2 linked regions of the Homo sapiens genome follow. The protein of the gene in region 2 purifies or fractionates together with the protein of the main gene of each other region. This does not show direct contact. Each region holds a gene or a part of one and is shown on either strand. Other genes may lie near its edges.

The links. Proteins that work in one complex are often made in the same cells at the same time.
Region 1: the proteins of RGL4 (region 2) and DCX purify together in Homo sapiens (affinity purification with mass spectrometry; 2 studies listed by BioGRID and IntAct, with this or other methods). This does not show direct contact.

Annotation. Positions count from the first base shown.
Region 1 is NC_000023.11:111,402,193-111,405,692, forward strand, and holds part of DCX (neuronal migration protein doublecortin), read right to left. Parts: intron 1-3,500. UniProt on the Homo sapiens protein: Microtubule-associated protein required for initial steps of neuronal dispersion and cortex lamination during cerebral cortex development. May act by competing with the putative neuronal protein kinase DCLK1 in binding to a target protein.
Region 2 is NC_000022.11:23,696,841-23,699,668, forward strand, and holds the end of RGL4 (ral-GDS-related protein), read left to right. Parts: intron 1-330; coding exon 331-405; intron 406-997; coding exon 998-1,021; intron 1,022-1,371; coding exon 1,372-1,493; intron 1,494-1,714; coding exon of another isoform or gene 1,715-1,805; intron 1,806-2,003; coding exon 2,004-2,043; coding exon of another isoform or gene 2,044-2,273; 3' UTR 2,274-2,328; downstream 2,329-2,828.

The sequences.
Region 1 (3,500 bases), on a different chromosome or scaffold from region 2:
TACATTATACAGCCTGATTTATGGATTGGAAGGATCTAGTGTAATTTTCACATTTACCTTGGGCTAGAGGAAATGACTAATATCGCAAAAGAAATGCAGGGATCAGAGGCAAGAGGAGGGGACTGGACACCTGGGACTATGAGCTGAAGAAAATAGGAAGAGAGATAGGCTCAGCCTGGGGAAGAGAATACTGGAAAAGGTTGAATTCGTTGAGTAAAACACATTAGCCTCAAGGTATCTAGAAGTTCATTGAGAGGTTGAGCTGCAGAAACAGTGTGATTTAATCAGGCTTAAGTCATCGGTAATAACCCTAAATAAATAAATAAACCCTAGCCAGTGCACAGAAAGCATTAAACACAATTATAGTCTGATGGCTCTCCTTTGGTCTCAGCAGGAGAACTGCATTCAGAAACACCAGGTTGATAATTCACTCCCTTTGCAAATATTTATTGCTTTGCCATAGCACCAAATCCTTTAAGACATGTTAATGAATAAATTTCTCAGTAATGCTAAGAGAAGTTTCAGTCAAAATCTCTAGTGTACCTTTGAGGACATTTATGTGTGTGTGTATGTGTGTGTGTGTGTGCGTGGTGTGTGTGTGTGTGTGTGTGTGTGTGTGTGTGTGTGTGCGGAGGGGGAGGGTAAGTGGCATCCAACATAAGCAAAGTGACTTCCAAAGCTGCCCTCAGTCCCAGAGTTCTATCTTGACAGGGGGACAAAGGGATGGTTTTAAGTGAGGATAGGCACCCTTACCCACTTGGTGCATACATGGACACCCAGGATGAGATGGTCAATACCTCAGCCAAGAGAAGCTCTGATTTCTTTGACTCCCTTGCTGGTTAATTCAACCCAACCCAAGTAATTATAGGCTGGGGTCTTTAATTTTTGACTTAAAAGGATGAAGGAAGGGGCCCTTTTAGTGTCTCCATATATTCACAGCCAATAACCCCCATAACCCTAGAAATGGTCTCTTGACTTAGCAGTTCACCAGATTCACTGGCACCTTGCAGGAGGTCACTGCCTTTGAGTCAGATGTTTTCCATAACTTGTCATGTACTTTAAAACTGTCAGACAAATGGTGGTGTGGAAATGTGTGAAGCTATATATTTATGATTTCACTCATCCAGTCTCCTCTGGAGAGTCAGCTGTGTAGCCCTATTAGGACTTTGGACTTTTTTGCTCCCATCTCTTAAACCTCTTAAGCCTCTGGAGTATGAGTATGATTAACCGTCTCCAGATGAAAATGAACATGATGACTGACAGCTATAGTATCATATAGCACCCAAGAACTTTCCAGAGGGCCCAGCCTCAGCCAAATCTATGTTGAGCACCTTCCAGTGGTACATTTTAGTCACTCCACTCTCTCGTTGGGCTGAATATGGAGTAATGGAAAAAGCGCAGCTGATGTGATGTCAGTCAGGATGGGGTCCCCAACACTTCCTAGTTGTGCACTCTAACCTCCCTTGGCTTCAGTTTCTTCTTTGCAAAGCAAGGGTGATAATAAGAATACCTATCTTGTGGGGTTGTTGTGGGGCACAAATCAGATGATGGATAAAAAGTGTTCAACCCATGGCCAGGTGCGACGGCTCATGCCTGTCATCCTGACACTTTGGGAGGCTGAGGCAGGTGGATCGCTTGAGATCAGAAGTTCAAGAGCAGCCTGGACAACATGGTGAAACCCCATCTCTACTAAAAATACAAAAATTAGCTGGGCGTGGTGGCACATGCCTATAATCCCAGCTACTAGGGAGGCTGAGGAAGGAGAATCGCTTGAACCTGGGAGGCAGAGGGTGCAGTGAGCTGAGATCGCACCACTGCACTCTACCCTGGGTGACGGAGAGAGTGAGATTCCGTCTTAAAATAAAATAAAATAAAATAAAATAAAATAAAATAAAATAAAATGCTGATCCCAGAGCCTGGAACATAGTAAGCACTTGATAAATTTCTGTTATTATTAAGCCCCTAATCTTACGGAATAGAAGCGAGAACAAGAAGGAAAGAGCAAAGAGGAAAAGAGGAAAAAATTGCTGAGAGAAAGAGACTAAAAAGAGGAATAGAAGCTGAAGAGGAAAAAAAAGAGAAAGTATCAAGGGCAACCATCTAGGAACTGAGCTGTGATTATGATATGACATGAGCACTGCTGGGGGCCTGTGATTCAAGGATAAGATTTCCTGCTGGTTGGAAGGAGGCTTCCAGTTGTGGCAAATGCCAAATGTAGGAGATTTATGCTAACACCCAGTAAAGCTGCTGCTGCCTCTGCAGAGGCCCGCTGAGAGCAGGATATTTATCGTCGTCAAGAGTGATGACTTAGGAGTCACACAGACCTGGATTCAAATCTCAACTAGGCACTTAAAAGCTGTGTGACCTCAGGGAAATCACTTAATGTCTCTGAGTCTCAGCTTTGCCTTCTCTAAAGCAAAGATAATGCACTAGGTGACACCTGAGTCCCTTCTAGGTCCTAGAGTCTATAGGGAGGAATCTTCTCTTTTCCTTCTCAAACAGGCTTCAGAAAACAAAGCTGTTAGGATAATTAAATGTTAAGAAAATAGCTGCCCACCTCCAAGGACTCTTCACTTCTGCTAGAAAGACATCAAATGCTCTTCTTTGCTAGACTAAGACTTCCTTGTCCTGATTTTGCCAGCATTTTCAATGTCTGCTGCCAGAGCTCAGTGCCTCCTGCACTTCCTGCTGCCTGGCACTTGGAGCTGGATGAGGTGTGTCGCACCTTTACACAGTTGGGTTCCCATCCTGCCACAGCTTCCAAGGGCTATTTCCTACCAGCTGGGGGCCTAGAGGGAAAGCTGGCTTCACAGCCAAGCAGGGTGCAAATTCGCTGGAACTAAAAACCTGCTTTAGGGTGAGGGGATAAGGAATGAAATCATGGAAGCACAGCTGAAAGGGCAGAAATGAAACAAGCTGTGGGCTGGAGATGATCTAATGTCTACCTCCCTTCTCTTTAAGAAGGCTGCATTTTCAAAAGCATTTTATATATATTTGTATCTTCTCAGTGCAAAAGCAAGCTTCTGCCTGGGTTTTCTCCTCTTCTCCAGGGCTTCCTGACTCAAGAAGGAATATATTAAATGACACTTTACTGTATTATATTAAAATATTAAATGACATTTGATTATCATATCTATTAGCAATGCATCCCTCCCAGGTATCTTAAAATTCTTGTGTTTGACAATGTACTTGCTTTAGTAGTTAGAGAATAAATTAGTGAGAAGGTGGATTCATCTCAATGAAACATATGAGCTATGGTAAAAGAACTGGATCATAGCCAGTGTGACTACACAGCTCGGATTTTCTAAGACTGTTCCAATTGTAAATATTCTGTCCCATGGTCTGTGTAATAACTCTTGAACTTGTCTCAATTTGGGTTCAGAAAAGCTGGCTAGTCATAAATGATATCCCCAAGGTTGATCTGGATACTTACATACAAGAAAATGGGGAAAGAATTGGACCAGATATAAAGGGAAAGAGAAAGATTCTAAAAAAAATAA
Region 2 (2,828 bases):
AGACCAGAGGAAGGGTCTGGGAAAGCTGGACTCAGACTAGATGTGGGGAAGGGTAAAGCTGGGACCACAGGCCTTTGTGACTTGTTAAAATCCCACCATAGAGGTTAACAAGGAGTGCTTGCTAGACTTGGAGGTCAGCTGGGATACAGGAGGCAGAGAATTGGGAAAGGCAGCTGAGGGTCTTTGGCTGCTCCAACCGGGAGACCTGAGGAGGGGGCTCTGGGAGACAGGGGCTGATGGGATTTCATGGGACAGGACCTTGGGCAGGCACCTGAGGGCCAATACTCATCACCACTACCCCTCCCACCTCCCCACCCCTCCTTGGCACAGGGTGTGGTCCCCTTCCTGGGGGATTTTCTGACTGAGTTACAGAGGCTGGATTCGGCCATCCCGGACGACCTGGATGTGAGTGAGCCTGGGGCAGGGTGCTTGGGAACCAAGATCCTGAAGCTTGGGAGGAGAGGGTCCTGGACCGAGCCTTTAGATCTCAGCCCTTGGCAAACCTCCTCTCCTAAGAGCCTCACAGCTGCTCCTGTGGGTGGGGGTGTCAGGCCCATCTCATCACCTCTGAGTGATGGAGGCTCCATGGCAGCCACCAGGCCCTATTCCTGAGTGGTGAAGCTGCAGAGCTGCCTGACTGCAAAGCTGCTGAGGTGTGGGCTGAACTGGGCTCAGCTTCTCCCTAGGGTAGTCCCGTAATAGGAGGGTGAAATTGAGCCTCTCCAAGGGCAGGCAGTTCCAAGGTCACTGAGCGCTTTCTTTCTATGAGAGACCTCAGTTTCCCTGTCTGTCATCACAGAGGGTTGGGGCAGAAGGTCCCTGGGCCTCAGCTCCCATTCCCCCTGCTCTAGAGCCCGGAGCCTGAGGCAGGTCCAAGTCCTGTCGTGTGCACATCCCCTGACCCTGGTGGCCCTGGCAGTAGTGCAGCATGGGAAGGGGTGGGGTGGGGCTGGTTGTGGGCCAGGGGCCTTTCTGATGGACTCTGTCTGCCTTCCAGGGCAACACCAACAAGAGGAGCAAGGTGAGCAGCTGGGGCACTCACGTTGGATGAGGGTGGGGATGTGGACGTCACAGTCCACCCTGGGCAGGACACTCCCTGGCTCCATCCTCTACATCTTAGGCTTACTGGGAGTGTTTGACACACACAGGAGGAGGGGACCTATCCCAGGAGAAAATGGGAAAAGCACTGGAATCAAAGACCAATTCCTGCAGGAGGGGCTGTTTATATCCAACTCTGAGAACAGGCTGGGGGCGCTGCATGGGACCCCTTCAGAAAACTGCCCCAGGGACCAGCCCCTTCTCCCTGCCTGCCAAAGGCCCCCACAGCAACTTCCACCCAGGCCCTGTCAGCATCCTGTCCTCTGTCTCTAGGAGGTCCGAGTTCTGCAGGAAATGCAGCTGCTCCAAGTGGCTGCCATGAATTACAGGCTTCGGCCTCTTGAGAAATTTGTCACCTATTTCACAAGAATGGAGCAGCTCAGTGACAAAGAGAGGTGAGGGCCTAGCCCATGGGCTGAGGGTGGGAGAAGGCTCTCCATTTTTTTTTTTTAACATGGTCTGGCTCTGTCGCCCAGGCTGCACTGCAGTGTCACCATCTCTGTTCACTGCAACGTCTGCCTTCTGGGCTCAAGTCCTTCCTCAGCCTCCCAAGCAGCTGGGACTACCGCTGTACACCACCATGTCCGGTTGTTCTGCTGTTGTTGTTCTGGTACAGATGGGGTTTCACGATGATGTCCAGGATCGTCTCAAACTCCTGGCCTCAAGCAATCCACCCACCTCAGCCTCCCAAAGTACTGACGTTACAGGTGTGAGCCACCCCACCTGGCCTAGAGGAGGCTCTCCCGTGGCCAGCTGCAGAGAGCCTATGGCCATGCCTCCACGGCCAGCATCAAGCCCTGTTGCATGGGGACCACTGGGGACCCAGGATTCCAGCTGGGCAGGCACTGACAGGGGACCTGATGTGTGGCTCATGGTGGCCTCACAGCTGCTTCTCTGTCCTGCAGCTACAAGCTGTCCTGCCAGCTGGAGCCCGAAAACCCGTAGGCTGGCAACATCCTGCAGTGGCTGGGAACCCACCGGGATGCTGGCCAGAACACCGGCTCTGCACCATCCCTCACCCAGACCGTAGACACCAGGGAACCACATCTAGGAGGCTGGCAGCTCAGCTGCATCTTGCCCTGGATCCTCATCACCAACTGCTCCTGCTGGCCAGGATCAGGCCATGGGACTTTTGTGAGTCAGGCGGGAGACCATTTTATGTTTATTTTCTTTAGTGTATAAGTAAGGGTTTTTTCTTAACTTTCGTTAAAATAAAATTTTAAAAAACTATTCAAAATGTTCTGTAGTTGTTGGAATGAGAAAAGTAACTCCAGTGCGGTAACCATATACCAGTCTTTAGGATTCATAGCCTAGCATGTCAAATTGAGGCTATGGCTGAACAAGTTATGGAATAGCATTCACATTACACATGCCAAGCATTTAATGTTTTCCTTCTTTATTCAAATTATTGTTAACTCTGCTTAAGAAAACAAACAGAACAAAACAAAACCCCTTAAAAGCCATAGTATGTCACCCAATCTATGTCACCCATAGTATGTCACATTTGTTCTACTGACCAGCTATTCTCAAACTTAAATTCTAGTTAAATTCAAGTTCCACTGGGTTACTCAATTTTCTTAAGGTTTAAATATTTAACAAATCACTTAAATATTTACTGAAGGGCTGGAGATGGGAGGTATTTAAGCAAGTGGTAGGGCTGGCCTTCTCCAGAAGTCCTGGGCAGAAGGGAGCTGGCCATCAGTCTCCACGAAATACAGATAAACTTTTTC